Linked DNA regions of Homo sapiens: regions 1 and 3 are each linked to region 2. Evidence: fine-mapped expression QTL. A gene starts in region 2. Each other region holds a variant in brackets. All regions are shown on one strand. Distances are from middle to middle. Region 1 overlaps NSDHL (NAD(P) dependent 3-beta-hydroxysteroid dehydrogenase NSDHL). Region 2 holds the start of ZNF185 (zinc finger protein 185 with LIM domain). Region 3 holds the start of PNMA5 (PNMA family member 5).

Evidence for each region. PIP is the estimated chance that this variant, and not a neighbour inherited with it, causes the effect.
Region 1: its variant is the best candidate, but not a certain one, in a credible set for the expression of ZNF185 in thyroid (GTEx, PIP 0.54).
Region 3: its variant is the best candidate, but not a certain one, in a credible set for the expression of ZNF185 in esophagus muscle (GTEx, PIP 0.77).

What each region holds. Positions count from the first base shown.
Region 1 is chrX:152,848,960-152,851,800 of GRCh38, forward strand. It overlaps NSDHL (NAD(P) dependent 3-beta-hydroxysteroid dehydrogenase NSDHL), which reads left to right. Exons shown (of 8, transcript NM_015922.3): 3 at 1,306-1,464. Among named protein-coding and RNA genes, the nearest start is that of NSDHL, 19 kb to the left of the region's middle. The variant T/G (reference allele first, on the strand shown) is at 1,329.
Region 2 is chrX:152,896,733-152,899,573 of GRCh38, forward strand. It overlaps ZNF185 (zinc finger protein 185 with LIM domain), which reads left to right and starts at 1,335. Exons shown (of 25, transcript NM_001395254.1): 1 at 1,335-1,506. RefSeq lists an enhancer at 587-1,087.
Region 3 is chrX:152,992,091-152,994,590 of GRCh38, forward strand. It overlaps PNMA5 (PNMA family member 5), which reads right to left and starts at 2,026. Exons shown (of 4, transcript NM_001184924.2): 1 at 1,943-2,026; 2 at 567-696. The variant C/T (reference allele first, on the strand shown) is at 1,278.

The DNA.
Region 1 (2,841 bases), 48 kb before region 2:
CTAGAAAAGAACAGGTTGGGAAGTTAGTTTTGGGTGGTAGAAGAATGGTGAGGCTGATTTTGTTAGTAGATTGCACATGGACAGATGAAGGTAAAGTACAGTGCCAGCTCCAGCTGGGCCTGGTGGAATCCAGTATGAGTGCTGTTTCAGATGGGACACCCCAACTGGGAGGGAGGTGGATCTAGAGAGGATGTCTGGCCCTGGCATCCCTTGAGTCTCTTGCATAGCTCAATTGTGTTGATGTTTAAGGAATAAGTAGGGAGATTTGTTTGTTTTTTAAATCTAGAACATAATTTCTTTAAGATCTTTCATTTCCACAAACCCAAGTTGGATTTACTGTATATGAGCTAAGGAAATTGGAGGTTGTCATCTTAAGGAGGCCCAGATACAGTTTTAGAAAGACCCTAGGGAGGAGGGATATCACAGGTCCTCCTCACAGACACCCATAGCCAGCTTGTCTGGTGTGCAGCAGCCACAGTTTGGCATCAACATCCTGAAATGAGGGTATTTAAGTGCCTGCATGTGCTACTGTGTCCTTTCATTATGCCCAGTCACCAGAGTTGGAATTACCCAAGGAATCGTGTGTGTTGTGGAGGCTGAGACATAAACACCATGGCTCTCCCCATTTCTTCAACTTCCTTGTAGTTCGGAGGAGGGAAAGCAGAGCCCTGGGCTCATCCATCCTCACTGCAGCCCCACCAGGAGATCCCATCAAGGCGGTCTTAGATTTCTAGGCTGAGGCAAGAAGGGGTTGGGCGATGAGCCCAGAGCCACACAGCCCAGCCCTGTTGTGGCCAGAGAGGGAAAGGGACTGACTTTGTCCTGCAAGTATGGAGACTGCTTTCTTCTTTCTGTTGTTTTCAGTGCAAGCTATCAGCTACCAAATGGCTGCCGTTTTGTTTTGTTTTGTTTTGTCCTTAGAGAAGCGCCCAGGGATCAGCTATCGGGAACAAGAAGGTATCACTGTTTTTTGGGGTATTTTTTAGATTGTCCAGTTTTGGTCATAGGTGGTTTGATTTCCTTTCACTGAATACAAAGCATGGATCTTGTCATCAAACCCAACCAAAGTCAATCTCAGTGTCATTCGCTATCTCTCTTCCCTCCTTACTGATCCCAGGAGAGAAGGTTAGGGTTGCACTAGTGATGGAACACCAGGATGATATAAAGCTTCCAACTTGGCTCAAGAAGAGTTCCAAACAAACAAGTATATCTGCCATTGCAGTGGCTCATGATATGTAAGTCTGGACTCTGTAGCTTCCAGTCCTCACTACCCTGGTCTTCCCCACCGTTCCTCTCTTTCCACAGGCCAAGAGATGCACAGTGATCGG[T/G]GGCTCTGGATTCCTGGGGCAGCACATGGTGGAGCAGTTGCTGGCAAGAGGATATGCTGTCAATGTATTTGATATCCAGCAAGGGTTTGATAATCCCCAGGTGCGGTTCTTTCTGGGTGACCTCTGCAGCCGACAGGTAATGGACCATGCAGCCTTGCTGATTTCCCACGAGCCCACGAAGGGAAACCACGATACTTCCCTTGCTCAGAAGCCAGCCAATTTGTTTGAAAAACAATTGTTTCATTGTGAAAATTTTCAAAGTTATAGGAAAGAACACCACATTCTTACTGCTTAGAATGAATAACCATCATCTCTGTCACAGATACTCAGCTGTGTCCTGGTAGCACAAAAGCAGCCATGGTCAGCACTTAAATGAACAAATGGCTGTGGCTGTATGCCAGTGAAACTTGACTTCAAAAGCCGTCCATGGGCTGTATTGTTCCAACTGCAAAACAAGTGTGTGCTGGGCCACAGGGTCTTGATTTTTTAATTGAGATATAATTCATGTACCACAAATTTCACATTTTTAAAGTGTGCAATTCAGTGATTTTCAGTACATCCACAAAGCTGTGCAACTGTCTCCCATGATCTAACTCCAGAATATTTGTATTACCCCAAAATGAAATCTTGTAGCCATCCCCTCTCTTCCCCTCCCAGCCCCTGGCCGCCACTCATCTACTTCCCATCTATGGATTGGCCTCTTCTGGACATTTCATATAAATGGAATCATGTAATATTTGTACCTCTGTGCCTGACTTTTTTCACTTAGCATGATGTTTTCAAGCTTCATCCATGTTGTACAGGTATGAATATCTTGAATTTTATTAGATGGTGCCAAATGGCTCAGCAAAGCTGCTATGTCAATTTTACCTCCATATCCACAATGTGGCACAAGCCCCATTGCTTCACATCTTTGCCAACACTGGGCATAACTAGACTTTTTGGTGTTGCCATTCTGAGAAGTATGAAGTGGTGCTTCACTGATGTTCAGAGTCACATGTCCTCCCTGACCAAGTAACCAGCCACTCTGCCACTGGGTGATCGGCTTTCAGGCTTCCTCCTGTGTGAAATGTTTGTCTGTGTCCTTTGCCCCTTTGTCTTTGGGGTTACCTTTGCTTCCTTGTTGATCTAGTTGGGATGCCAATCCTGTGCCCGTTGTACTTATTATGGATGGCTTCCCTCAGCCTGTCACTGGGCCCTTATTCTTGGCTTTGGTGTCATTCGCTATATGGTTTGTTGATGAAATATTAAGGCCATTGCTTCCGCTGCAAAGTTACGGTTGTTTTCTCTCCCGTGCTGCCCACACCTCCAGGCCTGGAGATGGGGTAGACATCTTTCATGCTCATCATTGCTGCCTCCGAACCGTTCTCCCTCATGCTGCTCTAAGCCTCTCCAGCTTTGAAGAGGATACCCTCAGACTGTACAAACCCCGACACCGTTCCCTCCTTGTGGTGGCCACCCACAGCCGCCTGCTCCCCTTCCCAGTGACTCCACATCATTTCTCAGTGATTTC
Region 2 (2,841 bases):
GAGGCTTGAAGAATGACTAAGAGCTCACTAGCCCGACGGGGATGAAGAGCATTTTAGGGAGTCCGAGGAGCAGGAGCAAACACCCCAAGGTGAGCGCCATGTGATGTATTCAGAAGGCAATGGAAAAAGGCCAGTGTGGCTGTAATGTATTGAACAAAGGGAAGAGTGGCTGGACCTGCAGGGATAGGTCGTCTCAAGGAGTCTGGCTTTTACCCTGAGAGCAATGGGAAGCCATGGAGGAGTTGCAAGCAGGAGAGCACCTGATCATATTGACACACGTGAACTTTTAACCTGACCTCCGTGTAGAGACTGAGGGAAAGGAAGGCAAGACCAGAGGCAGGGGGACACCAGCAAGGAGGCTGGTCTTCGGGGCCAGGTCTGGACTAGGGTGGTGGCAGCAGGCACAGGGAGAAGTGGGTGGACTGGAGGGCCATGGAAACACCACATTGGCAGGCCTTGATGAAGGAGAAGCAGCTGGTCCATTCTTTTGAGCCTACCACCCTGGTAGGCCAACTCCTGGCCAAGTCCATGCCATTTCTTGGGCTGGCTTAATTGTCTCCCTGTTTGGGAGGCCGTGGGGTGAGGGGTCTTTCCTCCATGCTCTCTCCATCCTTAGCCCCAGCCCAGGGCCTTGCACACAATAAAGCACTCGGTGAGCACCAACGCGTGACACAGGTACATCAAACCGCATTGGCTCTGGGAGTCTGGCTGTATCTCGTCGCCCAGCCTGGGAGATAGCCCCGTTTGCTGTGCCTTGTGAGCCCCGGGTCCGTCCCAGGATGGCCTTCCACGATGAGCGGCTCCCTCACTCTTCTCCTCCTTTCCTGCCTGCAGGACTTCCTGGATGATCTCAGCCGCCAGCCCCCCGCCCCCCTCCCCGCCCCTGTCTGGGATCTCCATCTGTAAAATGGATCTAGGAACGGTAGTTCTCGACTGAATTAACCCGACAGCATCTGTGGAAGTCGTTGGCCCTGTGCCGGGGCCAGATCGCGCAACTAGGAGCGGGGGCCCTTCACGTGGCGGAGGCTTCCCGGCCTGGGGGCCACGGGCCCGGAGGAATTTGCCTGGAAGTTTTCCATCACGGCAGAGCCTTCTGGAGCTCGCCCCGTGCTCGACAAGGGGAGCCCCAGACTTGATTTCTCCAGCAGCCCCGCGGGGCGGGGCCGAGAAGGGGCGGGCGGGCGGAGGACGCTGGCGGGAGAATGTGCGGAATGTGCCAGGCGCCTCTACCTACCCCAGGAGGGGCAGAGGAAGGGGCCGGCCGAGGGGAGGGGCGAGGGGCGAGGCTCCGGGCGGCCGGAGAAAACCTGTTTGTTCTCCTGCGGGCGGAGCCCAGTCCGCGCCTCCTCGCCTCCCTGCGCGCTCCCCGCTGTGCACCGCGCCCCGCGCCCCGCGCCTGCCTCCCCGGCCCGGCCCGGCCCGGCCGGGCGCCGTCCACCCGAGGGAGCCCGCGCCCTGCGACTGCCCGACCCTCCACCCGCCCCACGAGCCGGGCACCGGTGCCAGGTAGGGCTGTCGAGTCGCCATTGGATGCGGCCCTGCTTGGAGGCAGTGGGGGGCACCCAGTCCGTGCCCAGCTGGGGACAAGTCAGGGCCTCAGTTTCCCCATCCATAACCCTTACCAGCTCCAAGCATCTCTCTTCGGGTTCCCCCCGGGAGTCAGTGGATTTCTGGTTTTCGCTGTGAGTGAAAAGACTGACAGGCAGAGGAGGCCAGCGTCCCCTACAGAGGCAAGTGTCCCCCTTGCCAGCCTGATCCCTCTGTCTTGCCCTTTAGGAAAGACACGGTTTAATTGTTAGTAAACGGCGAGGGGCCAGGATGCTCTGAGAGTTGACTGCAGGCCTTTAAGAATCAGGGAATCTCATATCCCTCCGTCCCCCTGTGCCCATTTTATAGATGAGGAAACTGAGACCCAGAGGCTGGCTCACCCAGAGGATCCCCTCAATCGCCCTGGGGCCTGTGAGGTGCATGTGCTGGGTACAGGGCAATCTTGGGGAGGGCCATGAGGATGGTGGCTGCTCACACTCAGACAGAAGGCGCCGAATCAGGTGTCACTGGGTGTTATCGACAGGATCGGCACTGCACCAGCTCTGTGGCTGGATTGTTTTGATGGGGGCAGAGGGAGCCAAGAGTCTGTCCTCTTTGGAAAGGCAGAGGGATACCTTGCCTTACAAAAAGGCCGAAAGCTCAGGTGCTCCTGCCTGATCTGCCACTTCTGAGCTGGGGACACCTGGGTACTCTGTCGGTTTAAGGGGGTGACACGTCAAGCTGCCTCCCACCCAGGGCTGCTGGGGACTCAGATAAAGTAGGTGGTGGGTGTGTCCCGGCTTTGGGACATCTGAGGCATGGTAGGAGTTGTGTTCTTGCTGAGCCGTCGGCACGAAGCCTTGGCATCATGGGAGGCCCCAAAGCTGTGAGCCCCGAGAGAGGGCCTCTCACACCCCATCCAGCAGTGCTTGAGGCTTCAGTACCTGGACTAAGTCCTGCCTTGGTCTCATGGCCCTTCAGACTTCTGGCTGTCGTACCTGGCTGGGGGCGGGAGGCAGGGGTGCACAGGTTGATAGGCCTGAACAGAGCTGCAGAGGTCCTGCCTTCCCAGGGCCTCCGCTCCTCATCTGAAAAACAAGGGGCAGCTCAGAGGCCAGCAAGTGGCCAAGACACAGATGCACAGATGAGGGGCCAGCCTTCTGGCAGGCCTTGGTGCCTCCGCTGTTCCCCTCATCGCTCCCAGGCCACTTCAGGATGGGAAGGAACAGATCCCTCTCACCTGCCCCTCCTTCCAGCAATTCCCAGCCCCTGGCTGGATGCTGTGCATTCAGCCGTGTGGAGCTGATGGAAGGC
Region 3 (2,500 bases), 95 kb after region 2:
GGCTCAGGTCACCCAGCACCCTCCTTGCTGGAGTGAAGGCTGGCAGCAAGAGAGGTAGAGTGGCCCTCTTTCTCAGGAATGCCTGACGGATGAGAAAGATGGCTGAGCTCTGCGCAATGCAATGAGAGTGGTGGGTGTGGAGATTGTGTGACAAGCTGCAGTGTTGCCATGGATACAGAGAATACCATGGACCATGGGTTGCTATTGCAGGGGAGTGTCATGTGGTAAGGCCAAGGTCCTTGAAAAGCAACAGGTGATGTCATTGGCCTCCAACCAATAAAGCGTACTAGCAAAAAGGAGGGTGGGAGAGGGAAGGCGAGATGGGCATGAGGAGTGAGTGCTGAAAGGACAGGAGCTCATGGTTTCAATTGTGTGGAAGCTGAAATCAGGCAGAAAAGGGACCCAGATAAGGTCCCCACTGCCAGACTGCAGGAAACCAACAACTCTTGCCCTAGAGATGGCCCTACCCTGCAGAGTCTGTGAACCCTGGCAGGCAGTCCCCTCTCCCCACTCTTTGCCAGGGTTCCAGAGCCCCTCCCAACAGGGCCCAACTCACAGCTGCTCACCTTGCTGGGTTGGCCCTGCTGGCAGCGCGGATGCTGCAATAACACAGCCACTTCAGACTCGCTCTGCTTTTCAACTCTATCCAGTTAGGCAGTTCCTGACTCAGGCGTGATGGGTCCTGCTTCACTGGATCTGTCCAAGGCAAAGCAGAGGTATTTTGCTGTGATTCTGTCCCACACACATGTCCCTGCCCAGGCCATGCCAATTCAGACTCTGCATAGGTGTTCACTAGGACCCTGGTGCAGGGATAGAAGAAACTGCTCAACTGACAGAGGGAGCGGAGCGGGGGGAGGAGTCGGGGGACGAATGGTGAGAGGGGTGGGAGGTGAGGAGGGAGGTAGGGGGTGGGGGCAGGGGGGCTGCTGGTAGGGCAGAAGGGATCCTAAGGTAAGGTTGCTGCCCTACCCCCACTGCAAACTCCATTCCCTCCCAAGCTCCGCCCCTACAGCCATGTTGCAACCCTTCCTAAGCCCCACCTCAAAACCTGCACCCCTGCTGCCAAACTCTGCCTATAACTAAGTTGCACCTCTACCCCAAGCTTAGCCCCCCACCAAGTCTAACCCCTTCCACCACCCAAGTCTAACTCGTGCCTCAAGCCCTGCCCCCACCCACAGTCCAACTCCTACCCCAAGCCCTGCCCCCTCACCAAGTCCAACTCCTACCCCGAGGCAAGTCTAACTGATATCCCCAAATCCCCTACCTCCATTCCCCTG[C/T]TCCCCCCAATCCCCACCCGGTTATCTACATACACCCACACCACCGACATCAGTGGAAGCAGGCAGAATCTAGGAGGGGAAGGTTCGAAGCCACTTTCCCTCAAGGGCAAGGGCCAAGAGCTACTATCCTGACTGCAGTGTCTCCGGGCAGGTCAAGGGTGGAATAGGTCTCCCTGAAGTTTGTTTGTTTTTCTCTGAAACGGAGTCTGGCTTTGTCACCCAGGCTGGAGTGCAGTAGCGTATCTCGGCTCACTGCAACCTCCGCCCCCTGGGTTCAAGTGATTCTCCGGCCTCAGCCTCCTGAGTAGCTGGGATTACAGGCGTACACCACCACGCCCGGCTACTTTTTGTATTTTTAGTAGAAACGGGGTTTCCCCATGTTGGCCAGGCTGGTCTCCAACTCCTGACCTCAGGTGATCCACCCGCCTCGGCCTCCCAAAGTGCTGGGATTACAGGTGTGAGCCACCGCGCCCGGCCAGGTCTCCCTGAAGTTCTGCCTGGAAATGGCAGGGATTCCTTGGCGTGCTGGGTGTGATCTAGTGGGATCCCGCCTCCAGGGAAACCTATGGCCACCAGCCCCTAGACCCCGTGGAAAATAGCAAGAGTTACTGGGGGGTTCCCCCGTAATCTGGGTTGCTGTCCGAGCCCGGGGTCCAGCTCCGTACCTGCCGGAGGTGCCTCCAAGCCGGAGTTCCCGCGCAGCGCGACCACCACACGTCTATGGCGGCTGCCGCCTCCGTGCTGACTGCGCCACGAGGCTGTGGCGGGAAGAGGTTGTCTGGTGACGACCGCCCCCCTACCCCATGAGCGGAACTGCACACGGCCCGCTCACGGTTGCGCACTGGTGACATAAACCCTCCTACTTCCTGCAAGGTGGTTCCTCACCCCACCCACCCCCGTGCCGACGACGGTGGCAGCCAGGCTCGCCACGTGCCATTTGGCCCAGCAGCCACTGTGGCTCTTCCTCATTGGAGGGGAGCTGTGGCGTCCCAAGCCCATGGGTGAAGGGCCGGGTGCAAATCACCCAGTGCAACGTATAGGCCACGTGAGCGCCCTTATAAACGAGTCATAGCCCTCGTTTATTTTTTATTGGACTGTTCTAGGGGAGGAGGGCAAAAAATACAGCTACTGCCTGCATTTCACAAGGGCATTAGTTTTTTTTCGCTGCTCACTGAGAGCCAGATGACTGAAAATATTCCATTCTCCCATTATTCTCCTGATTT